Linked DNA regions of Homo sapiens: all the other regions are linked to region 5. Evidence: fine-mapped expression QTL. A gene starts in region 5. Each other region holds a variant in brackets. All regions are shown on one strand. Distances are from middle to middle. Region 1 overlaps MAP2K5 (mitogen-activated protein kinase kinase 5). Region 2 overlaps SMAD3 (SMAD family member 3). Region 3 has its middle 93 kb from the start of RNU6-1. Region 4 overlaps SMAD3 (SMAD family member 3). Region 5 holds the start of AAGAB (alpha and gamma adaptin binding protein).

Evidence for each region.
Region 1: its variant is fine-mapped to the expression of AAGAB in whole blood (INTERVAL, PIP above 0.99).
Region 2: its variant is fine-mapped to the expression of AAGAB in whole blood (TOPMed, PIP above 0.99).
Region 3: its variant is fine-mapped to the expression of AAGAB in whole blood (TOPMed, PIP above 0.99).
Region 4: its variant is fine-mapped to the expression of AAGAB in tibial nerve (GTEx, PIP above 0.99). The same link has a PIP of 0.9 or more in lung and tibial artery.

What each region holds. Positions count from the first base shown.
Region 1 is chr15:67,802,995-67,808,201 of GRCh38, reverse strand. It overlaps MAP2K5 (mitogen-activated protein kinase kinase 5), which reads right to left. Exons shown (of 22, transcript NM_145160.3): 22 at 1,088-1,556. The coding sequence ends at 1,452. Among named protein-coding and RNA genes, the nearest start is that of SKOR1, 20 kb to the left of the region's middle. RefSeq lists enhancers at 2,695-3,555, 3,556-4,418. The variant G/T (reference allele first, on the strand shown) is at 2,850.
Region 2 is chr15:67,173,306-67,178,305 of GRCh38, reverse strand. The region is part of intron 5 of SMAD3 (SMAD family member 3); the gene reads right to left. Among named protein-coding and RNA genes, the nearest start is that of SMAD3-AS1, 29 kb to the right of the region's middle. RefSeq lists an enhancer at 2,204-2,253. The variant T/C (reference allele first, on the strand shown) is at 2,359.
Region 3 is chr15:67,929,967-67,935,173 of GRCh38, reverse strand. No RefSeq gene overlaps it. Among named protein-coding and RNA genes, the nearest start is that of RNU6-1, 93 kb to the right of the region's middle. The variant A/G (reference allele first, on the strand shown) is at 2,876.
Region 4 is chr15:67,182,665-67,187,664 of GRCh38, reverse strand. SMAD3 (SMAD family member 3) reads right to left here. Exons shown (of 9, transcript NM_005902.4): 7 at 2,801-2,938; 8 at 156-300. Among named protein-coding and RNA genes, the nearest start is that of SMAD3-AS1, 38 kb to the right of the region's middle. The variant G/A (reference allele first, on the strand shown) is at 2,434.
Region 5 is chr15:67,252,661-67,257,660 of GRCh38, reverse strand. AAGAB (alpha and gamma adaptin binding protein) reads left to right here and starts at 3,000. Exons shown (of 10, transcript NM_024666.5): 1 at 3,000-3,102. The coding sequence starts at 3,030. IQCH (IQ motif containing H) reads right to left here and starts at 2,875. Exons shown (of 21, transcript NM_001031715.3): 1 at 2,714-2,875. The coding sequence starts at 2,764. RefSeq lists an enhancer at 2,940-3,259.

The DNA of each region.
Region 1 (5,207 bases), 550 kb before region 5:
CAGGCATGCACCACCACACCCTGCTAATTTTTTAAGTTTTGTTAGAGACAGGGTCTCACTATGTTGGCTAAGGCTGGTCTTGAACTCGGGCTGAAGCAATCCTCCCCCCTCGACCTCCCAAAGTGTTGGGGTTACAGGCGAGAGCCATTGTGCCTGGCTCCAAACTCACCCTTTATAATAGCACCAATCCCACCCATGAGATGGAAGCCCAGCTGGGCAGTGGCTCCCTAGCAACGCGGTACCCTGTGGAGGGAGTGTGAACCTTCCATGGCTAGACGTCTCTGCTGTGACCCTGGGTGGTTATGTGCCCGGATGTTCAAGGAGCAGCAAGAAGACCAACTGGCTGGAGTCAAGAGAGAATTTTGGGTGATGGAACCAATATTCTTTGAAGGCAAAGACAGCAGGACTGGATGTGGGTGTGAAAAGGGAGTCAAAGCCATGTCCTGGCATTTTAGGGAGTGCCAAATGGCTTGGGCACTGGGAGGATGGAGATGCCATTTACTGACACAGGAAAGCAGTAGGAGGAGGTCTGGGTGGGGTGGGGGATTAGGAATTTGCTTCTGGACGTGTTGAGATGCTATTCAGACCTTCAAGTGGAATCCTGAGCCCCTTGGAGCCTCAGCTCCTCACCTGCAAAATGGGGGTAGCCAGGCTTACCTGGCATGTGGCTGAGGGGATTTCCTGAGAGGTGAGAGGTGGCAGGTGTGGGGTCAAGGGCAGTGAGGAGCAGGGGTGGGGCTGGGGTGGAGAAGGGCCTCTCAGAACAGCCCACTCCCTCCTCAGCCACGCAGGTCAGGTGGATGTGTCTGGCAGTCCAGTAAGGAGCTCATGGCGGGGGCCTGAGATCCGGGCCTACTCCTTGCCATGGGACCCATCCCAATGCCTCCGTGCTTCTGTTTCTCATCTGACAGTGGAGCTGGGCTGTGGGCCTCAGCACAACTGCGAGGAGCTAGCAGGAGGCTTGCAGGTGCCTGGGCAGGCAGCAGGCACTGTCACACACATCCCTGCTGAAGTGGAGATCCCACCTGCCCCCAGCCCTGGGGGGGGTCACAGACCCCCTGGACCACACAACTCTTATGGCAGAGGCTGTCACAAAGCATTAATACTTTTATTCCCATCAGTGATGCTGACGGGCCTGACCCTTTATAGAGAAAAACATTAGGAAAACAGAAGTGGGCAGGGACCCTGGGAGCCTCCATTCTCAATGCCCCACCCTTTACCTCTCTGCCAGTGTCAGCGCCTTCAAACCAGAAGGTATGGGGATGGCCTGGTGGGGTGGGCCACACATGGGGCTCCCCAGGCAAGGCCACCTGCTGACAGAGGTGAAGGCGAGGGCAGGGAAGCCAGGGCCCAGCAAAGCTCTTCTGGCGCAGGCAGCATACGGAGAAGGGCGACGGGTGGGTTGTTCTCCTTGGTTACTGGTCCTGGGCTTTCAGTGCCCTGCGGCAGCCTCACGGGGGCCCCTGCTGGCTCCGCCTCTCCTCCAGCGCCCGGCACACCCACATGGACACCACGGCGGCATTTCCATCATTGAACTGCACGATGAACGGGTGGCCCTGCGGGGAAGAGGAGGAGGCTGTGACAGGCAGTCCTCGGACTCCCGCGCTCATTGTACTTTCCAGGGCCTGCCCTCAGCCTGGATCTGATCTCTTTCCCCAGTAACCCTGTGAGGTAACGAGGGAGGCTATCAGCTCCATTTCACGGCCTAGATAATTGAGGCCCAGGGACGAGCAGTGACATACTGGTAGTCAGCACCAAGCGTGTGGAGTGCTGGCTGGCACATCTCAGACTCTGCCACCTCTTCCTGAGGCTCGCACTAGCCTGGAAGGTGCTTAAGGGCGAGGGCCTGTCTTCGCTGCACACTCTGCCTGGCCCTTCCTCTGCCCGGCATCACTCGCACGGCCAGTCAGCCGAGGCCTGGCACTGTGTTGCCAGCTTTCCGGTTCAGTTGGTGCCCAGAGACCAAAGAATCATCTCGTCAGAGGCTATGTCAATCCCTTTTAGCTTTCTCCTTTGTCTACAGCTCTCCTATAAAAAGAAGTCACCACCTGCAATTGGAGGGAAGGCAAACATGTCAGGGGAAGTGGGGAGGGGGAGGAATGTGCTGGGCTGTGCACAGGATCTCTGGGTTCCTGGTGAGAAGTTCCATTGGGGGCTGGACTCTGGAGGGGCCGGCCCTGTTGCCCTGTGGCCTGCCTCTGGTTCTAACCCACTTATCACACAGGCAGACCAGATTCTATTTAGCCAGTTCTCTTCTCTGCTGTCCTGAAGCACCAAGATTTACATCCACAATCTTAGGGCCTCCTGGGAATTCCCAGGGAAGGTCAGAAAAAAGCAGGGACAACCCCAGGGTTACCAGGCCACAGTCAGAGGTGAAAGGAAAAGTGAAAAGCCTTCTTTTTCTTCCTCTTCACCAAGTGGCTTCTTGCCCAGGAACTTACACCAAGTGGCTTCCTCTCCTACCCAAAACTGTGCAGCTTGCATGGTGAGACTCGGGGAGCCATAGCGAGGACAGAGAATGGGGGAGATGAGGGCGCCATGTGCCTGCCCCCAGCTCTTCTCCCTCCCTGTCCAGCGGCCGCTTCCTCGCTCCCCCCAGCTCTCTCCTCCCTCCAGCTTCCTCAGCCCCTCTTGGGCCTGTCCTCCACCTGCACAGGCTGGGCTTTCAGGGTTGCTTTCCCAGCACACCCCAGCCTTGACTGCAGCCCTAGAGAGGCTGCTTAAAGAGCCGCATGGCCTCGCCACGAGCTCATCACAAAGCCAGGAGGGATGTGGACCCTGGCTGTCCCAACCTCAGCGCCTGCAGGGGCTGTCAAGGACCAGGCCTGGGTAGAGCAGGGGACGGCATG[G/T]CCCCTCTGGACCACAGGTCAGAACTGTGGGGGACAGGAGAATGCTCAGGCCGCCTCATCCTAGGCTGATGCAGTGCCCGCCCCCAACCTTCTCATTCGAGGTTGGGAAACCTGCCCTGGGGACACCCTGCGTGGGTCTATCTCAGAGGCACACAGAGCACTGTCAGAGCTGCGAGGAGGAGGAGGAAACTCGGCTTCGAAGATGCCAAGGCACTCAACCCCGGGCAGGGACCCGCTGAGACTGGGGTGGAGCTAGGCCTGGAGCCCAGCTGGGTACTTCCCATAATCTGCTCATAGCACTCTGGGAGGCTCCTGACACACCTGCAGGACCCCTAAGGGCACAGGGGCCATGGAGGCCAGGCTGGGTGTGGCCCTGTGGATGGCAGAGGTTTGGTCTGGGGCCTGAGCAGGAGAGGCCCAGGAAGGACTGGATTTTGGCTTCCAAGTGTTCTCCTCCCCATATATATGCCCACCCCACGGCTGCTTTCCCAAATCGCTGCCTAGACAGAGGAAATCCTTCCCAAAGTCCAAGCGTGCACACTTCCTCTCAGGAGGCTCAGGAGGGGCGACCTCGTGCCCTTCTAAAGAACAAAGGGAGAAGCTGTGCTCACGAGTGACGGGCCCCTCCCCCCACGCCCGGGGTAACACAGTGTCACTTTCCCAGAATGCCGGGTGACTTTGGGGCCCATATGCTCCATCTCTGTTATCATCTGTTCTGGAACAAGCAGAGCGGAACTGCAGGAGGGAGCGTAGAGGCGTTCCTCCACATTCCAGAAGGGCGGATGGCCGCACTGCAGGGAGGCAGTTTGCCCAAGTGCCCCGGTAGGCGAGGGGAGAGGGCTGCTCAGCTGCAGCCATACTCAGCTCCGGTGGAGATGCCGGCCTCTCCTGCCCTCCTCAGCTGGGAGGTGACCTCGTCTCCTGCTGCTGCTGAGGCATGTTGTATCCCCGATACTTTACCCCACCTGCAAGGGAAGCGACCTGGACCCACTGCCTTTGTCCCAAGCCACTGTTGATTGGTTTAGGGTGGTTGCCTGACAGGGAGAATCACAGGGGACAGACATGGAGGGGACCCAGCGTCCTAGGCTGTGCACTGTGGACTTGGTAGCTGCTGGCAGCTGTTCACCACCATTTGACTGGACACAACAGAGAAAGCCAGTGTGTAGGACCCGAGAGCAGGAGGTGCTGTCCAGAGGCAGGCAGGCGGGGGGTCGTGACGGCACTGGAGACCCTGGGGCCATTACACCCAGAGCCTGGCAGCGTCTCTGCCTGCAGGGTCCACACGGTCACAGGATCCTGTGAGGCACCTCACAGGCTGGGGCTGGTTTCTGTTATTTGCAGCCAAAGAAGTGTTAACTCACACAGGTGGGCACAATCACCTCCACTTTACTGATGGAGGCTGCAGGGTCACAGCTGACCTGCCTGAGCTCCCAGACATGGGACTGAACCACAAGTCTGTAACCCAAACCCACTGCCCTGGGCTCTTCCTGGATAGAGGAGGGAGAATCAATATTCAGATTGCAATTCCCCCTCATCTTGTTTCTACCTTGGCGACTCAGGCCTGCCTAGCCAGAGGTGCAACCAGGGCTGCAGGCTGTAAGCCTAGACCATCCCAGGTCTTGACCTCTATCAGCACTGTCCCCTGGACACACTGGGAGAGTCACTGACTCCCCCTCCTCCCATCAGCCCTGCATGGGATTCAGGGAAAATACACCATGACCCCCATGTTAGAGGAGAGGACACTGAGGCCCAGGGAGGGAAGACAGGGGTTAGGAGCTGGCACTGAGCTCATGTCTCCTGGTTTCTATTCTGGAGTATTCTCGGGGCTGGCCTGGCTCCCCTGGGACCCTGGCAGGTGTGGCTCTCTCCTTCCTCCTAGACTGTAACTGACGCCCTTAACCCTGTGACATGCACAATGCAGGCATTCCTCATGAGTTTAGCAAGCAAACAAAATCTGATGGAGAATTTGGGAGGAAGCACAAAACTCACTTGGCCACCCAGAGGTGCCCGAGTTCCACACAGCCAGATGCCCTAGGCATCTTGGCAAGGCCAGACTCTTAAAGATGGATGGAGATAGCACACTGAATAATACCAAGTCCAGCTGGGAGGTGACCCCATCTCCTTCGTATTACTGATGAGGCACATTGTATCCGTGATGCTTTACACCACTCTGCAAGGGACTGACTTGGACAAGGAGTGCTGTGTGCTAGGCATTTGCCAAAGGTTTGTCCTGATGTGCCCACTGGCTCCCATGCTCACTGTGGCCCACACACAGCTATGCATCTCCATTGTGCTGAAGAGGAAACTGACACTCAGTGTGCAGAACTTGCCCAAGGGCAACCAACCAGGCAGTTGGGC
Region 2 (5,000 bases), 79 kb after region 5:
AACCCAGCCCACCATTCAAAAAAAGAAAAAGCTGGCAGGCCACCCATTGTGTCGCATGGTGCTAGAACCATGCTCTGGGGAAGGGTGGGCTTCAAGGACCCTCAGAATCAAAGACAGGCCTGGGGTCATAGGCCGAGAGGCCCTCCCAAGCAGATCTGAGCCCTTATCCAAACAGCCCTGCAACTCACAGACACACACCGGACAGTGTTGTGGAAAACCCCGGACACTAGGAACCTGACACATCATTAAGAAGATGCTTGTTTGAGGGAGCAGTGAAATCAGGCCAGTGGCAAAGTCTGCAGGCTGCCATTTCAGAGAGTGCTGTTTGGACAAGCTGCCCTGTGTTCAGAAGCGGGACTGAGCCAGAGCAGCACCCCAGCCATGCGCTTTCTATTCTCTGCAAACAACTAAAAGCCAGCCGTGATTTCCCTCCTTTCTAGGTCCCTCCCGCCCACCATGCCTCAGCTGCTTCCTCCCAGAACTTGTGCAAGAGGAGTGGCAGACCAGAAAGTATGGTCACCACCTGTGGGTTCTGCCTTCAATGGCACATTTTTCCTTAACAAAAAAAAAAACAAAAAAACAGACCATATGCAGTGGTTCATACCTGTAATCCCAAGCACTTTGGGAGGCCAAGGCAGGCAGATCACTTGAGGTCAGGATTTCGAGACCAGCCTGGCCAACCTGGCGAAACCCCGTCTCTACTAAAAATACAAAAATTAGCTGGGTGTGGTGACGGGTGCCTGTAATCCCAGCTACTCTGGAGGCTGAGGCAGGAGAATCACTTGAACCCAGGAGGCAGAGGTTGCAGTGAGCCAAGATCACGCCACTGCACTCCAGCCTGGGGGATAGAGCAAGACTCTGCCACACACCAAAAAAAAAAAAACCCAAAACACTAAATATGCCCTCATTTCTTTCCCAAAGTACTTATCCTTACCCTGGTTAGTACCAGAGAAACAAAAAGGACTCTGGAAAGAAGGCGGCTATAAATGGGATAACCATGAGGTTATAGTTACTGCAAAAGCATCCAGTTTGGCTCTGAGCTTCCTAGTAGACAAGACAAAAAGGGAACATGACATGGTCTATGGCTCTGGTTGGTGGATGGGCAATGCTTACTAGTTCCTCAGGGAAAACAAAGTTTGTCCTGGCATTAAATCTTAAAAGAAATCTCTCAGGGGGAGGTGGCAACCCCTCCCCTGACCAATCAATCAACTGATCAAGCAAGCAAGCAAATTAAGATCTGGTTTCAAGGATTTACCAACAAATGCAGAAGCAGTTCTATAGAAGGCTCCTCTAGGAGAATGACTACGGGGGGTAAGGTGACACACCCCATTGAAGAGCAGTTTCACCTCTAGGCTGAGCATTTTGCACAGCTGGGGTGGTAGACGATGGCACGTGCCCACGGCCTTCCCTTCAAACAGCCCTGCTCCTGGCCAGATTTCTGAGTCTGTGCTAATCTCTCCTCCCAGTGCAGAGGTGTTGGAGACGCAGGAACCTCCAGCTCCAGCCTTTGTGGATCCCCCTCCCCCACCAGTGTGGTGTCGGCCAGACTTCTCAAGTGCCATAGGGCACTTAATCCATGGCTGGCCCCCTGCCAGCCTAACGCATTGGCTGGCCTCAGTTTTCAGTCCTGTTCCAAGCTGGCACAGACGTTCCATTATGTTTAAGAAAAAGAAAACAGAATAAAACCCAGAAGGCAACACTTGGATTAAGGGATGCCTATTAAAAACATGTGCAAGAGATTCAAATCCCGTAAAGGAAGAGGTGGGGAGGCAAGGGGGGAAATTAACTTTCTCCTATAAATCGAAAGCAAGGAACGGGCAAAGGCCAGGAGCACTGCTGCTGCAAGACGAAAGGTCAAAACAGAAATGGGCTGGTTTCTGCTGGGCCCACCTCACCTGCGGAAGGCAGCTCTTCCTCAATCTAGGAGATTCCACACTCCAGTTCCCATGTTCCTCATCCACCACTTCTCAGTCCTGCCTGGGTCCTCTGCCTGGACTGCCCATCCCCCTCCTCTGCAGGGACTCGATCTTTAAGGCCCAGCTCACACGGCTGTGAAACACTCCCTCACTGCCTCAGTGCAGAATTAACCTTGTGTCCCAGAAACTGTGTACCTGAGTCTCCTATGCTAGAGGATGAGGTCTCTGTGAGCCCACGCCAGCTGTGTCCCAGCACCCAGGGTACTAATTCCAACCTATGTATCTGCGGACTAAAATACCAAACCAAGCTGCACAGAGACCCCCATGCCCTTTTAGCTTATGACCAGCATACTGCAACCAGGAACAGTGGCAAAGTCTAAAAACCGGGCCCTCAGGAGTATGAAGACAGAGCCGACAGCTGACTTCCTGTCATTATGTTGCC[T/C]GCCTGTGATTTCACAAGTGTGGGGAAGACCCTGCCTGTGATTTCACAAGTGTGGGGAAGACCGGAGCCAGAGGCTGCATTGTAAAAGAGCCTTGGGCAGCAGCATGAAGATGCCTGGAACTGGGTTGGGCCTCTGCCCTGGGCCGCCGTCCACACTCAGGGCTGGTGGTCTTCGGGCCGCCCTGCCACCACACCTGTGCTCACACATGGGCACAGGGGCTCATGAAGCAGAGGGGAAGCCGGGCCTGTCAGCGTGGAGTCTCACCCAGAATCCTAACCCTGACTCACGGGGCAACTTGCCCCCGATTCACACCTTCCCAGCAGAGGTGCAACTAGGCCAGTGCAAAGTGGCACCCTGGGGGGAGGGTCCTCCCTTTGGAAGAAATAACCTAAGAATTCTCAACTCTCAGGCAAGGTGCCTGAGGAAGCGTCAGTAGGGAGGGAGAACTATGTCAACAGGAGATGCTGCCTTGGGTCCAAGCTCAAGAAACATCCCATCATCCTAGTCTACACAATCTAGAGGGCAATTCACAGCAAACGACCACCTTTCAGTCTGAAGCACTGCATCCGGCATCAGCCACCTCCAAGCTGCCCTATCCCTCTCACTCCAAGCTGCCCCATCCCTGCCTCTCACTCCTGCCACTGGCACTCTGGAAGCCATCACCTCCTTTAACTCCAGCTCAACTGCTCCCTCAGGGCTCTCCCTGGTACATTATTTTCCTCAGTCATGGCTCCGCCCTAATCATCTCACTTTAAAGCAGGGAACAACTTACTCACCAGGCAGAAGCCAGCTCACTACCTTTTTCCTCTCTCCACCTGCCTCCTCCTTCCCCTCCATTTACCCCAATCCTTCCGCCTTAAATGCCTAGGAAATTCCCGGTGACTCACCCAGCACGCTGTGTAATAACAGGAACATCACCTGCTCATATCTCCTGCCCTGCAAACAACGGTCCCAGGTCCCAGGGTCTCCGAGAGCCTGCCTGGGGCAGGATGCTGAGCCAGGTCTCAACCAGGAGTCCCTGCCCCTTACCAGAAGTGGCTTTGCTGGGGCAAGGAGGCTCAACCTTCCCCAGACCTGAGCCCTGGGGCTAACACCTGGAGTGGGGAGGAAATGAAAGGAGAAACCAGATGTCCTCTGCTTTCTTTCTTTTTGTACAGTAATTTCATAATAATCTCTTTAAAGGAAATAATCAGATGTCCTGAGATGTCCCCATTTTTTCCTAGGAAGAGCTCCCTGTGTGCTTGCCTCCATCCTAGGGTTTGGGACGCACTGACTGTGAGTCAGCACAAAGGCTGCGCTGCTGGGTGCCTCCACCTCCCCACCTGGTACTTGCCCTTCAGTGCACTGCTGACTGACTGCAGCCCCTCCCCTCCTACACACTGCTCCCTAAAAGCTCCCCCTTGAAACCCTGATGCCAAATCCAAGGCCTCTTCTTAAATCTCATTTTGCATCTCTGCAGGGCCCGCTTGTAGCCACTGTCCTTCAGGGCTTGCCTCCCCTCTGAGCTGCTGTGACCCCATCATCCCCCTGACCTCAGCCTTCTCCAAGGAACCCCCACCACCCGAGCGCATCTCTGGCTGTCTTTCCATCTTGAGCTGGGTCGGCCTCTCCACTAAATCCATCCACTGGCATGACTTCAGCCAAACTTCATCGGTGTTTCCAGAGTCAGATCTATGGATGGGTAATGGGGCGGTAAGACAGAAGTACAGGAACAGTGATCAGTGCATGGGAGGAAGGCTGGGTCAGACAGGCCTCCTTCTGCAGGCTCCTCAGAGCGTGGCCATGTGAGTCCCTCCTGAGTGGGGGCTGGAGGAGAGGCCACAATACAGGCTTTCCACACTCATTCAACCACCAAACCCCTTCTCTCAGGCCCCGCTATGGGAAAGGCTGCCACATGTGTTCATGGTTTCCAAATCTGCGCCTCCAGCGCCAGCCGCTTTCCTGACTTTCCAACTGCTTCCTGGACATAGTTAAGCACAGGCAACCCACCACCATCTTTCACCCCCAACCCATTCCACTTCCTGGGTGTCCAGCCTCGATGGGGGCATCACCATCATCCCACTTAACGCTGGTCAACAAACCCTGCTCATTCAGGCCCATGATTCCCTCTCAAATGCATTCTCCCAGCTCTGCTACCATTTCTCGAAAGCATTTATCTCAGCCTCCTCCAGAGGAAGAGCTGTCTAAGTGGGTTTTTGTTTTGTTTTGTTTTGTTTTGCCTCCAGTAATTTCCCCTAGAATTTAGATTCCACACAGTGGCCAGATTAATCTTTATGAAGCTGTCATCAGAAAACCTCCCCAATCAAAACCCACAAACAACTTTATTCTATAGGCAAGAGGGCGCTAAGCAGACACTCAGGGGTCTTTTCCCAGTGCCCCACCTGCCATTTCAGCCTCCTTTTCCCACCTTGTCCCTCTTGAGACAACAACCAACCACCATGCCAGCTGTCCTCAGACCACATAATGCCCTTGGACCTGCAATGTCCTTCCATCCTTCTCTGCCTCACAGGGTCCCATCTGTCCTTCAAGGGCCCGCTCACACATGGCACAACCTCTCCCATGTCTCCCCACTCCATCCACACTTTCCTCCTTGGCATATACTATTCCTCCCTCTTCTGGACTTTCTCCCTGGGCACCTGGC
Region 3 (5,207 bases), 680 kb before region 5:
CTGTTGCCCAGACTGGAGTGCAGTGGCACAATCTGGCCCAGGTTCAAGTGATTCTCTTGCCTCAAACTCCTGAGTAGTTGGGGTTACAGGTACAGGCCACCCCACCTGGCTAATTTTTTTTTGTATTTTTTAGTAGAGACGGGTTTTGCCATGTTGTCCAGGCTGGTCTCCAACTCCTGTCCTCAAGTGATCCGCCCACCTCAGCCTCCCAAAGTGCTGAGATTACAGACATGAGCCACCATACCTGGACTACTTCTCCAAGACTTGAACTCCTATCTGCCACAGCAGTTCTAATATTTCTACTTTACTTAGTGTGAACCATTGCTTTTCCTAAGCTTCTAAAATCCATCTCTGAAGTGTGTTCACCCCCTTACCCTGGGTTCCTTGCCAGAGTGTTAAGTTCTGTATCATGGAGAGTACTCCCATATTAACACCTGCTCTTATCCACCTTTACCTTCCTCCCCTCTTGATCCAGCCTACTCAGGACCCTGTTCTGTGCACAGTGCTTGCTTAAATGTATTAGCTAGATCCTGTGGCTCCTGCAGCATATAGTGCCTCTCCTCCCTTAGCATGCTCAGCACAGCTGGGATTTAACTTTTATTAGATCGCCAGGAAGGAAGTAAAGTTGGGTTCTGAGGAGGACAAGCATTCTCATGTAGGGCACCTGCCTCACTGGAAACCTTGTATGATCTTTGATATAGTTTGGCTCTGCATCCCCACCCAAATCTCATGTTGAATTGTAATCCCCAGTGTTAGGGAAGGAGCCTAATGGGAGGTGATTTGATCATGGGGGCAGATTTCCCCTTACTGTTCTCATGATAGTGAGTGAGTTCTCACGAGTTCTGGTTGACAGTGTGTAGCACCTCCCCCGTCTTTTTCTTCTTCCTGCTCCAGTCATGTAGGACATGCCAGCTTCCCCTTCACCTTCTGCCATGATTGTAAGTTTCCTGAGGCCTCCCAGACCTGTACAGCCTGTGGAACTGTGAGCCAATTAAACCTCTTTTCTTCGTAAATTACCCAGTCTTGGGTAGTTCTTTATAGCAATGTGAGAACAGACTAGTGCAATCTTCAAATAAGGGGCACCACTGTTTGCCAACAAGAAGTGTGTCACTTCTGCAAACCCAGTGGGTTCAGAAGGACCTGAGAATTCAAGGTGCTTGACTGCATCTACTCATATATCCCCAACCCAAGTCTCAGGTTCCCAGTCCTCACCTATTATGGCTCTGACCCTGGCATTGGAGGCCTGTCAGGGCTGAAAAATCAAACCTTCTCCAAAGCTCTGCTATTTTTAACATTAAATCCTATGCCTGATCCTCCCTTTGCAGGAGGGATTTCCTTAACAGTTGCCCAGGAGGCCATCTGGCTTTAACATTTTACCTTGGTGATTATTCACTCTGAGGCTATCATTAAGTCTCTTTAGCAAGTAAATGGACTCAGCAATGGTCATTCATTTCCATAGTCCTTATAGTCACTACGGCCCCCAGTTGCCAGAGATACTACACCAATGAGTGTGACCCCTTCCACCCATATACCATATGTAGGGGAGAAAAGATTTATCTTCCTACTCATTGCTAGGTTCTTGGCTGAGACTCTGTAGCAAAAGACAGGTTAACAAGAGAAAAGCATACATATGTATTTAATATTAGTTTTACATGACACAGGAGCCTTCAGAAATGAAGACTCAAAGAAACAGGGAAACCTGTGTATCCTTATGCTTGGCTTTGATGAAGAATGAACAGTCCTGCAGAAGTCTAATGGGACAAAGGGGAGATGATCTAATAGTGATAAACTGCAGAGGGGGATCTTCACAAGGCCTCTTTGTTTAGACTCTTGTCCGTTCTTGTGTGACATTCCCTCAAGGTATAGGGCAGGACACCTGTCACCTGAGGGTTTTCAGGAGAGAAGGGTGGGAGAAGGTCAGATTGTCACCTTCCTAAGTTTTATGGCCTTGCTTCAGGGAAGAAGGTAGAGGGGAAGGTGAGAGTAGCCTTCCTGTTTCTACTATTTTCTCAATTTCCAAGGTGTTATTATTTGAAGCAGCATTTTCTGCATCCCATCACGCCCCAGTTCACCAGAAATGCAAGTTTTAGCCATCATGCAGTTACAGCATGGCAGGGACTATCCTTACCACTCCTATACCAGTTCATGGAGAGCTGACTAGCAAGTGATCCCTCTCCAAACTCCCACTTTAGAGTCTGCCACCTTGAACCCCTCTGACACCAACTGTCCTAAGTTTGGGTTCCCTGGAAGCAGACTCTGAGATGGAGGTGGTTTCTGTCTGCAGAAGGTTTCTTAGGCAGTAATTTTGGGAGATACACCTGTACGTAAGTGAGAGGGCAGGATTGAGAAGAGGGAGAAGATGACCCCCAATGTGGTTGCAACCAGGAAGAGCCAATCCTACAGGGAGCTCTGAGCCACATGGCCCTTCAGAGGGTCCCAAATTGAGGCAAGGGGCCCAGGCTTTATATCCTCACGTCAGCCAGTCACAGCCTAATGACTACCCTTGGGGTCTGGGCATCACCTTGGTGGAAGCAGTGACTTGTGGCCAAGGGCAATTCCCAGTGAGGGAAGTAGCCAATATTCCCAGCAGCTGGGAATGAGTGTGTGGGCTCTGAAGAGGAATCTGAAAGGAACATTGCTATATCCACTAGAATATGCATCTCTGAATGAGATAAAATGTGTGAAGAGAGCTTAGCAATATGCCAGGTACATATTTTTTAAGTTCCTACATGATATGGCTTGAATGTGTCCCTCAAAGTTCATGTGTTGAAAACTCAATCCCCAATGCAGCAGTTTTGAGAGGTTAGACCTTTAAGAGGTGATTAGTGGCCAGGCATGATAGCTCATGCCTGTAATTCCAGCACTTTGGGAGGCC[A/G]AGGTGGGAGGACTGCTTGAGAGCCTGGGAGTTCAAGACCAGCCTAGGCAACATATGGAGACCCTGTATCTACAAAAAATAATTTAAAAAAAAACAGCTGGGTGTGCTGGTGCATGCCTGAAGTCCCAGCTACTAAGGAGGTGGGAGGATCACTTGAGCCTGGGAGGTCAAGCCTGCAGTGAGCTATGATTGCACCGCCGCACTTCAGTCTGGGCAACACAGTGAGTCATGTCTCCAGGAAAAAAAGAAAAAGAGGTGATATGTCATGTGGGCTCTGCCCTCATGAATGGATTAATGCCACTATTGAAGGAGTGGGTTCATGATCTCAGGAGTTTGTTTTTTGATAAAAGGAATGAGTTTGGCCTTCGTCCCCTCTTGCTCTCTCAGGCTCTCTTGCCCTTCCATCTTCTGCCACAGGATGACACAGCATGAAGGCCCTTGCCAGATGCAAGTCCCTTGATCTTAGACTTCCCAGCCTCTAGAACTGTAAGAAATAAATCTCTTTTTAAAATAAATTACCCAGTCTATGGTATTCTGTTACAGCAACACAAAATGGACTAAGACACTATTATTGTTATTTATAATAGTTATGATTTATGTAATGAGGATAAACCATACAAAGTTGCTTACATTTAACAGTGTTTGACTTATTAATATGGCAATTTCATATAGTTTAACCTTGTAACTAATAAGAACAATTAGCAATCTAATGCCTGTTCTACATATAAGATTATTTTGAGGATCAACTAGAAATGGATATATAGGAAACTGTTTTGTAAAAGTGAAACGTTCTATTAAAATGTTGAGGCCAGACATGGTGGCTCACACTTGTAATCACAGCACTTTGGGAGGCAGAGGTAGGAGGATCACTTGAGCCCAGGAGTTCAAGACCAGTTTAGGCAACATTATGAGATCCCATCTGTACAAAAAACACAAAAATTAGCCGGGCATGATGGGGCACACTTGTAGTCCCAGCTACTCAGGAGGCTGAGGTGAGAGGATTGCTTTTAGCCTTGGAGTTCAAGCATTATGTGAGCTGTAATGCACCACTGCACTCAAGCCTGGGCAACAGAGCAAGATCCTGTCTCAAAAAAACAAAAAAACCTCACATGTTGACATACTAGATTATTGCTGTTATCTATTTTTACTACCACAACATCTAATAGAACAACTATGTTCAGGCCTCCCCAGCCAATGAAAATAAACTGCCTTATCTCCATTTAATGCTCAAGCTACAATTTCCTTTGAACCCTACTGGCCCACATAGGAACTCAGTCCCTGCAGGACCATCCCTAGCTATTTTGGAGAGGCCCCAGGTGCTAAGTTACCACTGCCCCAGAACTTGCCCTTATGTTCTCCCCCTCCAGCTTCCTTAGTCTGCACACCTGCTGCGATTTCCCACACTGCTGAGCTTGTCTGTCCCTGCACCGAGCCCAGCATTCTGAGTGGGATATTGTTTTGTAAAGTGAAAAGTTCTATTAAAATGTTCAGGCCAGGTATGGTGGCCACTCAGCCCCAAGCATGGCCAGAGCCTTCCCCTCAGTGCATCATACTCAACAGAAACCAGATGCAGTGTCTAGCAGGAGCTGATTAAATTTGGGCACCATGGAAGAAGAATAAAATACAAAGAAATACATACTCAACACAGTGACCAATGTGGATTTTATCAGAGCCCAGGTTGGTACCCAGATAATCTCATAGGACCACCTAGCTGTTCAGCCCCAGCTTGTTCCCCATCAGCAGGGTCCAGCCCAGCTCCTTCTCTCAGGTTGCCTGGAACATGTCTTCCCTTGTAGGGCAGACCCAACTTTGTTGAGAGAGAGAGAGAGAGAGAGAGAGAGAACACACTTCTTTCTCACCCCAAAGGTCCACATCTTGAGTTCTCAATTTCTACCCCAGGACAAACTTCCTCCCAAGATGACTGGCATGGGAACATTTCTTCAGTGGAATCTACCCCACTCCTCAGGCTTGGACTTGCCCTTTGCCAACAGCAGGACAATTACATAAATACACAATGGCTCAAGTTCAGTCCAGGATATTGTGGATATATTATGTGTCCAGCCCAGCCTGGTCCAGGCCCTTTTCAGTTTCTTTTCCAATCGACAACCTTGTCTGAAAGTACTCTCTGCAGTACTCTGGAGTTCCAAAAATCTTCCAAAACATTTGTCCAAAGCAACTGCCATTCTATAAGAACAAGCAACAGTTTATTGCCTGGGGCACTCTTGAATTAAGGCAGAACTGAGAAACCTTTCTCTACCCTCCACTTACCCTAAAGAGTACAGTATTAGCAGAGCATCTACTGCATGCACCATAGGCAATGACTCCCCTGCCC
Region 4 (5,000 bases), 70 kb after region 5:
TCCTGCCTGCCAGGCCTTGGCCTCTCTCTGATCTTTGGTCTTTCTGCTCTTGACGCTAGGGCTGGCCTAGCTCATCTCTGAGGAGCCCTGCCTGCTCTGCTGTCCAGAGTCACCTGGAGTTGGGTCCCCTGATGTAGGCAGCACCCATAACTGACCTGTACTCCGCTCCCCAGCCTTTGACGAAGCTCATGCGGATGGTGCACATTCGGGTCAACTGGTAGACAGCCTCAAAGCCCTGGTTGACCGACTGGGCCAGGAGGGCAGCGAACTCCTGGTTGTTGAAGATCTTCAGGTTGCATCCTGCCAAAAACACAGAAACAGGGCTGTGGGGATGGAAGTGGCCAGGTCCGTTGCTCCCCTCCTGGATAAAGCAAGTCCTGGACCCCCTAGACCAGCCTCATTTATACAGCTCCAGGGACACATGGTGTGTGATGCATTTGCCACACACTCCACACTCAGTACCATGCAAAGGGAAGGCCAACCCAGTCCCTCCCCTTGAACCCATCTCCTCACTGGGAGGTGCCACTGACATACCTGCAAGGGGAGATGGAAGGCTGGCCCACAAGCTCCGACTCCCAGAGCAGGGAGAAGTCTGCAAAGAGGGCTTCCAAAAATAGGGAGATGGTGTGGAGAGGGGGGCCTTTCCTTGGGCAAAGGGACCAGGGGACAGAGAGATAAGGGACCTGGGCCAGGTTGCCCATGCTGTGTGGGGTCTGGTCACCCACCTAGGAACAGGAGCTCTGGCCGTTCCACAGCAGGCAGTGCCCCCAGAGACGGGCTGGCCGAAAGGCTACTGGGCCTGCCGTCCCCACAGGAAGCTTGGCAGAGGGCCCAGTGCACCCTCCACCTGGGCTCCTCTGATGAATACACCTGGTGCTGGGGCTAGGAGGTAAGGAGAGATCTGGGCCAAATTTTGGCCTCTGGGCACTGGGCTGGGTGGAGGTGACATTCACAGCTAAGTGAAGGTGTGCATCTGATTCTCCAGACAGTAAAACTAAAGACAGTCACAAATAAAGTTTAAAATAAATGTCGTTTGAAGTCTTACTGCCTGAGTGCCAGGAATGTGTCAACCAGAAAAATAAAGACAAAAGCACATGCTGGAAATAGCCAAAAGGTGAGCCGGGGTGACGCTTATGAATGAGCCAACAGCAGGCTCCTGTTCTTGCTGTGTGACTCTGAGCTGGTCGCTTTCTCTTGGGGACCCTGTGTCTCTGTATAATGAAGGGCTGGCCTCAGAGGTCCTTCCAGCTCTGACATTCTATGAGCTGACAAACAACACCACAGCCAACTCAGCCCTCACCCAAAAGATGGGGGTGGGGCCGGGGAATGGAAGAGGCAGAAGGCCAAGAGCGTCACTGAGCTTCCTCTTCTTCATTCTCTCCAAGGACAAGGGTGGTGGAACAGGGCTGAACCTGGGCCCTGACCCCCAGCAGAGCCAAGAAGCAGAAGAGCACCAAACTTGAGAGTCCATCAGCCCTAGGCCCCATCCCGGCTTGGCCACTTACTAGCTGTGTGCGCTTGGGCAGGTGGCTGAAACTCTCTGAACTTGTCTCTCAAAGCGTCTCCTTACTTATAGAGCCAGAGAATAACTGGTGAGGACTAAATGAGGTCAACGATCGGAATGTACTCTATAAATGCAACCACAAAATGCTCTGGAAACCTGGTGTGCTATTATCATTTCAGACTTTCTGCATTCTAAAGTTTCCCCTGCCTGTGGTCTACCACTTCTCCACTACCATCTGCTACTCAGTGGGCAGGAAGGGGCATGCCACACACGTGCCACAGGCAATGGCCTGGCCAGGTTACCTGCTCCACTAGTCTGTCACAGGCCATGTTCTGTGGGCTGCCTACACAGTGGCTGCACGTCCTGTGAAAAGTGGACTTTGGCTGGGGCTTTCTGCCTTGGTTTCCTGAGGAAAGAGGCCTTAGATGGGATCAGCCACCTGCCTGATCTTGCTGTCCAGGCGTGGCCCTGTCCAAACCACTCTCGGGGGTGCAGCCTGACACCTCTTCTTGGGGTACAGGTGGGATTTTTCAGGCTCACTCAGAAAACCCTCAGCAGTTCCCTAGAGTCAAACTCTCTGGTGTCCTTCCACGGCCTCATGCTGTTGTGCTTTTGAAACATTTCCCCTGACGGTCTCATACATGACCCTCCTCCAGCCAGAGAGCTACCCATCCATGTCCTGCCCTCCATTACCTCAGGCCCTTTGCCTGGGCTGCTCCCCCTGTCTAGAATGCCCTCCCTGTGCCTAGTGCCTACCTATCCTTCAGGATCCGGATGTTTCTCCTCCATGAAGACTTCCCTGATCCATCCCAACAGCTAAATGGGCCTTCTCTCTACCTGGGCTGCTGGCTTGGTGCTTGGCACCCGTCCCTTATATTGAACTCATCCGTGTCTTTGTCTTCTGTGCTCTGCAGGCCTGTAAGGTCTGC[G/A]GGGGCAGAGCAGGGCCGCATCTACCTCTTCATCCCCTACAGCACCTGGCACAGAGCCCTGCATGCTGTTTGTGCAATGAATGAGTGAAGAAAGGAAGCCATACTGCCTGAGCATCTACGCACAGGGCAACAGGCAGGTACCCACAGGTTAAAGGCAGACCTATCAGATGCTACATCTGCTCCCTGGAAGTTCAGGGAAAGCACAGTTAGATCTGTGGGCATAGAGAAAACCTAATCCAATCACCTCCAGATTGACAACGCAATCATGAGTGAGCAGAAAAGGTGAGAAAGGTGGACTCTCTCCAGCATCCTAGGCATGCACTCGGAGAGGGACCTCAAGGCAGGGGTGCCTGTGCGGCTCGTTTACCTGGTGGGATCTTGCAGACGGTGGCCGGGTGCCAGCCATAGCGCTGGTTACAGTTGGGAGACTGGACAAAAATAGCGCTGTCACTGAGGCACTCTGCGAAGACCTCCCCTCCGATGTAGTAGAGCCGCACGCCTCTTCCTACAGAGATTCAGGTTAGACTGGACAGGGTGCCTTTGCTCACACACAATGGCCCTGGGGCCACCTGAGGCTCGCAAAGGAGGCAGAACAGCAGAGCTGCTCCCAGTGACTGCCAGCTTCCCCAGGCAAACGGGCCCCAAAGCCCAAGCCTAAAGTAGGGGAAATGGGCACTGCCGGATTCCTAAAGCCAAGGGAGGCAGATGACAAGAGATGGGCACACAGGATAGGTCTCAGTGACAGCCTTTGCCACTGAGTAGGCATGGGCCTCAGTCAAGTTATTCACCCTCTGAGTCTTCGTTTGTCTCTACGATAGGGATGGGGGCCAGGCGCGGTGGCTCACACCAATAATCCCAGAGCTTTAGGAGGGCAAGGTGGGAGGATCACTTGAGGCCAGGAGTTCAAGGCCAGCCTGGGCAATGTAATGAGACTTCATCTCTACAAAAACATTTTTTTTTTAATTAACTGGGCATAGTGGCATATCCTTGTAGTCCTAGCTGCTTGGGAGGCTGAGGTGAGTGGATTGCTTGAGCCCAGGGGTTCAAGACTGCCGTGAGCTCCCATCACACCACTGCACTCCAGCCTGGGAGACAGAGTGAGACCCTAACTCCAAAAAAAAAAAAAAAAAGGGAATGATGATAACCTCTACCCTTGCAGGATTACTGTGAGACACACAGTAAGTGCCTGGTGTCAGCTTTTCTTGCTGCTACTGCTACTACTACCCCACTATTATTTGGTCTCTTCACACTCCAAGATTCAGAGATTCATTCAGTAAACCTGCAGGGCTCCTTCTGATGCAGCAGACACCCCAAGGAGCCCTTTATTGCAGGGATGGTTTAACGCTATGCCCTTATTTTTTTCTTCCCTCAATGCATTTTTCTAAAACATTCCAGAGGTTTATATCATTTACTTTTCTTTCATCTCTTAAATCCACTCCAGATGGACAGAAATTATTTTTAAATTGGCTCTGCAACTCAAACAGTTGCGTAAACTCTGACAATGAGCTCTTTGCTCGGCCAGGGGATGGTCCCTTCTCCTGCATGGCAAAGTCTCTGCTCCATTCCTGGGGAAGAAGCTCAGAGGTCAGAACACGGAGCCAGATATTACAGGCCCAGCATCCGGTAGGATGAACACGAGGTGACCGACCCATGCATCACTGGATGTCCCCTGTCCTGCCTCCTATTCCCACTACTGTCCCCTTCCTCCAACCACTCCCCATTTTTTCTGGCTTTAGTTCTGCAGGGTGCTGGTGGCTCAGAGTCCACAGGAGGGATGACTTCCTGGCTGTCCACAACTGTATCATGTCAGTAAGAGCAGAAGGCAGAGGTGGGGATGCGAAGACCCAGACCAAAAATGTTTGTTTCGTTTCAGTAACTTAAAAAAATAGGCCGGGCATGGTGGCTCACACCTGTAATCCCAGTACCTTGGGAGGCTGAGGCGGGCAGATCACCTGAGGTCAGGAGTTCGAGACTAGCCTGGCCAACGTGGTGAATCCCCATATCTACTAAAAATACAAAAAATTAGCCAGGTGTGGTGGCACATGCCTGTAATCCCAGCTACTCAGGAGGCTGAAGCAGGAGAATCACTTGAACCTGGGAGGTGGAGGTTGCAGTGAGCCAAGATTGTGCCATCGCACTCCAGCCTGGGAGACAAGAGCGAGACTTGGTCTCCCCGCTCCAAAAAAAAAAAAAAAAAAAATATATATATATATATATATATATATATATATTTTTTTTTTTTTTTAATAAAATATAGAAAAAAGCCAGTTGCAGTGGTATATGCCTATTGTCCCAGCTAATCAGGAGGCTGAGATGGGAGGATAGCTTGAGCCCAAGAGTTTGCGACTGGGCCTGGGCAACATAGCAAGACCCTATCTCTAAATCAATCAATCAATCAAACAGTGGTATGCCACCCAGAATAAGTATCTTTTTTGAAGTAAAAAACAAAAAGCGAAATGGGAACAACAGGTCTGGTAGTGGTGGCTGTCTGTCACTGACAATGAGGTCTCTGCAGAGCCGTTCCCTACCCTCCCCAACCCCCTAGACATCAGGTCCCTTTCCTAGAA
Region 5 (5,000 bases):
CTTCTAAGATTTACAAAGCATGATTGGAAACTTCCCAGAGTCACTATCACACTTCTTCAAGATTACTTCATGAACATGCCATAGCCTATTTAAGGATCAATACATACTGGATGTATTACAATGGGCAAGATGCTTTACTTCTTTGTACCTAAGTGTCTTCTGTAAACTGGAGCTAAAAAATAATACTTACAACACCTTTGAGAACCACTGGTCTAAAAAGCTGTTTAATATATCTGACTGATACACAGACGTAACTGACCATATTAGGGTGAAGCAAGTAGAAATTTAAAGTACCTCTGCTTTACAGTCTATTGCACACACACACTCACTCAGTCACTGACTTGCCAGAAACAATTTGATTGCCTAGGCTAACAACAAAGGAAGTCTACTTTTACAGTAAATGATGTAGCCTGGGGAAATTGGGACAATTTAAAGTCAGAAGTGAACCTAATCCAAACTATATGTCCTATGGAAGAGGAAAGTGAGGTCCAGAGAGATGAGTGCCTAACTCAAAGTCACTACTTGTGAGACTGTCAAAGTCATGGTCAGATCTCAGTATTCTGACTCCCTATCAAGTGCTTTCCACTAGACACACTAATTATTGGTAGCCTGTCTGAGGGAAATAAATCATAGCCCCAAATAGAAGTGGAATCCACGTTGGCACAGTTGGGTGGTGCTACATACTCACACATTCTCAGGATTCACTGAGAAAGTAGGGAAAGTCTTCCAAATTTCCTCACTATACATATTCTACATGTAGAGAATAGAATTTTATACTATACAGGAATCAGTCTTAATAATCTGGTTAACAGGTAGGCTCTCTTCCTCTACACAGCCCTTTACTTGATATGTCCACAGGAATCCTTTTAAATAAGTAGGGGTGCAGATCAACATGGATATGACTATTAGCTCTTCTGACCCATCTCACAAGTCAGTGTCAACAGTTATCTATTACTATAATGTTGTATCCTAGGTAAGAGTCTCCATTATTGTTCTAATTATTTGGAATCTATAAAAAGAGTGGGTATGTGCAGCAAAGAATTAACCTTACCCAAAGAGGGGTCCAGTCTTCGCTCCTGGCTACTGGGAGGTGATCTCTAGGCGCCTGGGATGTCCTGCCTGATAGAAGTGTCTTTGTCTGTGGGCTTTGGCCACCAGACAGTCTATCAACATGATTTATAATGGGTGTTTTGATCCACGCTGTATCAGCTCAGACCTCTGGAGCAGCGGGAAACTAAAAGTATTCAGGAGGGGCTGGAGATTAATGGTCAACCACAAGGGCAGTGTGAGATTGAGCCCCAGTAAAAACTCTGGACATCAAAGCCTCAGATAAGCTTCTCTAGTTGCAATATTCTATGCATATTGTCACATATCATGGCTGGGAGGAAGTAATGCAGGTAATGACGTCAATGACTCCACAGGGATAAGATGACCAAAAGCTCTATGTTTGTACCCCTCCTGGACTCTGTCCTATTCATCTCTTTCCTTGGCTGATTAATTTGTATGCCTTCACTATAATAAAATTGGAGATGTGAGCACAGCACTTCCCTGAGCTCTGCGAATAGTTCTAGTGAATCATTGAATGTGAGGGTGGTGATGGGGCCCCTAAGTTTGTACCCAGCTGGTCTGAAGTGAGGTGGTTCTGGGGACCCCTGAACTTGCAGGTAGTGAGTGTTGAAGTTAGGGCAGTTTTTTGTGGACCGTTCCCTCAGACTTCGCAGTTTGGCTAAACTCATTGCTGCGTGATGGTGAAAGTGAGGGTGAGAAAAGATCAGGTAAGATTAGGTATGATTCTTAATGGGGAAGTCTATGAAATTGGTGAGTTCAGGGGCTTGTATTTGGGAAAAGGTACATTTAGGGAAGTCTCTCCTAGATGGGAGGTAAGAGATCAAAATTCTGCCAGAAAAATTAGATCCCTTTGACGAGTAAGACCCACTTCAGACCAACTGAGTGACAGTCCTGACAGAGTGACCTTAGACAAATGACTTCAAGACTTAGTCAAATGCAGCTATTATATATGTGATAGTTAAAACCGATGATATATGTGGAAATATCTTAAAGTTACCTCACATAAATGTGAAAACAAAATGCCATGATCATTTCAGAAACATCTGAGTGCAACTATTACAAATTGAGCTGTATTGGACAAGACTTTCTTGACATTTCCCCTCTCAAATTAAAAAGGTCTTTCACTAAGTTTTTAAATGTCACATTTTTTCATTCCAAGTTATCTTGATTTTTCTGTGTGTTCTCCAATGAGGAACATTTAGATCTAAAAAACTGGGGTGTTTAAGAAAAGCAATTCACATATTTCAATTTGTCTCCAAATTTCTTATCACCTCCTAGAGTGTCCGATTTGTCTCTCCTCCACTCCCGACGTCATGGGTTCAAATTTTTCAGAATATAACATTTAAAAATGATGCCTCAGCGTGAGGTTAATTTTTCTGAAGTAAAGGTTCCGGGTGAACGGTTTTAGAGTTTTCCCAGAGGCAGAAAGTCCTGCTTCTGGGGCGTAACCTACAGGGTAAGTCACCGGGAGTGTGCTGGGCCGTGGGGGAAGGTCTGGGTGGGCATTTTTGGGAGCCTCTCGCGAGTTGGAGGGAGTCTAGGGGCGGCGCACCAAATGGGTGAGCGTCGGTGAATCGGCGCGCGGGACCTCGCTCGGAAGTGGCGCGGCTGGGCAGGGCAGGGCCGGGGGAAGCCCGTTTCCCACCTGGATTAAGATGGATCCGACAGGGTCGTGGTTTTCAGTGTTCTGTGCCATGGCTAGGTCAGGGAACGGCTACCTCCGCGGAGGCGCGGTTTCCAAGCACGGAAACCTTCAGCCGGAGCCGCTCGTCCCCATGGCAACACCGCGCGCGACCTGGCCTGTTCCACGCTGGGAGCGGAAGGGGGTCTAGGGGCGGGGTCAGGCCAGCCTGGTCATTCCGAGAACGCCCTCTCCGGCCTGTCTCCCCCTCGCGCCGGCGGCCGTGGTGCAGCCCAAGGCGGAAGCGGCTGCCTGACGGAACCGGCTCGCGAGCGCAGCTATGGCTGCTGGCGTACCCTGTGCGTTAGTCACCAGCTGCTCCTCCGTCTTCTCAGGAGACCAGCTGGTCCAACGTGAGTAGATAGGCGCCTGGGCCGACCTCCAAGGCCCCTGAGCCTCAGCGGGCGACGGACCCAGCACCACGGCCTCTCTGGGCCTTGTCCCCGCAGCGGGCCCTGCGTTCTTCCTCCAGTCAGTGGAGGCGCCCAGTCTCCCCAGGTGGCTGCCCCTATCTCTTAATCTCGTGCTTTTCTGCCCACTCGGCCTTCTTCGGCGTTCCTTTCGGCTTCCTGTGTAAAGTGAGACTGATTTCCCGCTCTGCTCAGCCCAGGCCACAGGTTTTTGCGAGGATCCGTTGAGATGAACCTGAAGGCTCTCCGGAAATTGCGCTAGGTTACAGGAGTGTAAGGTGCTGGAATTGTTGATATCGTGATGTTGTTATCCTTGCTGCTCCGGGAGAGAGTGTTTACTCTGAATTCTGAAGTTTATTCTGCGTATTTACTCTGAAGTTTATTCTGCTTCTTAATGTGTACATTATAAGACTTGTTAGCTTTGTCCGCTCCACTCTAGTTATTCACGCCTTTCATCTGAGGCATGGGCTCTCCGCCAACATGAGTTTTTGGGTATGATTGGGCTAGTGCTTTTGCTTGTAGACCCTCATAATGGCTGTCAGACTTACTAACTCTTAAAAGAGAGAACATGGGACTGGATAATAAGCCAACTCTACTAAAGGGCTCTGTGAAGTTGAATTATAGGTAACTCAAGACTTCTGTTTTAAGTGTATGGCTTAGAATCAGAGCAGTGACTTAGCTGTATGATCTCGAGCAAGTCACCTAACCTACCTACATTCCTTCCTTCTTTTCTTTTTTTTTTTTTAAAGAGACGGGAACTTGCTCTGTCGCCCGGGCTGGAGTGCAGTGATGCGATCATAGCTCACTTCAGCCTCGAACTCCTGGGCTCAAGCGATCCTCCTGCCTCAGTCTCCCGAGCAACTGGGACTGCAGGCTCACACCACGAACCCTGGCTAATTTTTTTATTTTTTGTAGAGCCAGAGTCTTGCTATGTTGCTCAGGCTGGTCTCCAACTCGTGGTTTCAAGTGATCCTCCTGTCTTGGCCGCCCTAAGTGCTGAGATTACAGGCGTGAGCCACTGTGCCTGGCTACCCTTCACTTTCTCTTTTCTCTCCTTTTTTTTATTTTTGTTTTGAGATAGGGTCTCACTCTGCTGCCCAGGCTGTAGTGCAGTGGCGTTATCTCGGCTCACTGCAACCTCTGCCTCCTGGGCTCAAGCCATCCCCCTACCTCAGCCTCCCAAGTATCTGGGACTACAGGTGTGTGCCACCACGCCCGGCTAATTGCCCCCCCCCCCCCCCGTCATACGGGGTTTGGCCATGTTGCCCAGGCTGGTCTGGAACTCCCGGGCTCAAGTGATCTGCCTGCCTTTGCCACCCAAAGTGCTGGGATTACAGGTGTGAGTCACCACCGCGCCCGGCCCCTTCACCTTCTATCTATAAAATAGGGATAATTTTCGCAAGATTGTGCTTATCCCCGAGTCTGGCACATAGTAAACATTTGATAAATCATAGACATTATTATTAAGGCACATTACTATCTCTGTAACCCTCAATTTCCTGATCCTTAAAATGGGGCATATGAGCCTATTTCAGGAGTATTTGAAGGACAGATGATGTGACATTTTGAACACACTTTGTAAACTGTAAAGCATTGTATAATTATAATTTCTTTGCTACACCTGTCAAATGACAGAATTAGGTAAGATGTCCCTTCAGTGCAGATATTATATGACTTAGTTATCATTTGTGATCACTTAGAAAGTTCCTTGCTAGGGTAAAAGCTTAATTATAGCATTTAACTAAGTGGTTACTAACTGGTCTAATTAGGCCATTTTCTTACCTTTAAGCAGTGCTCCTTCCTATTTTCTCCCTTCCCTCCTTTCTTCCTTCTTTTCTTCC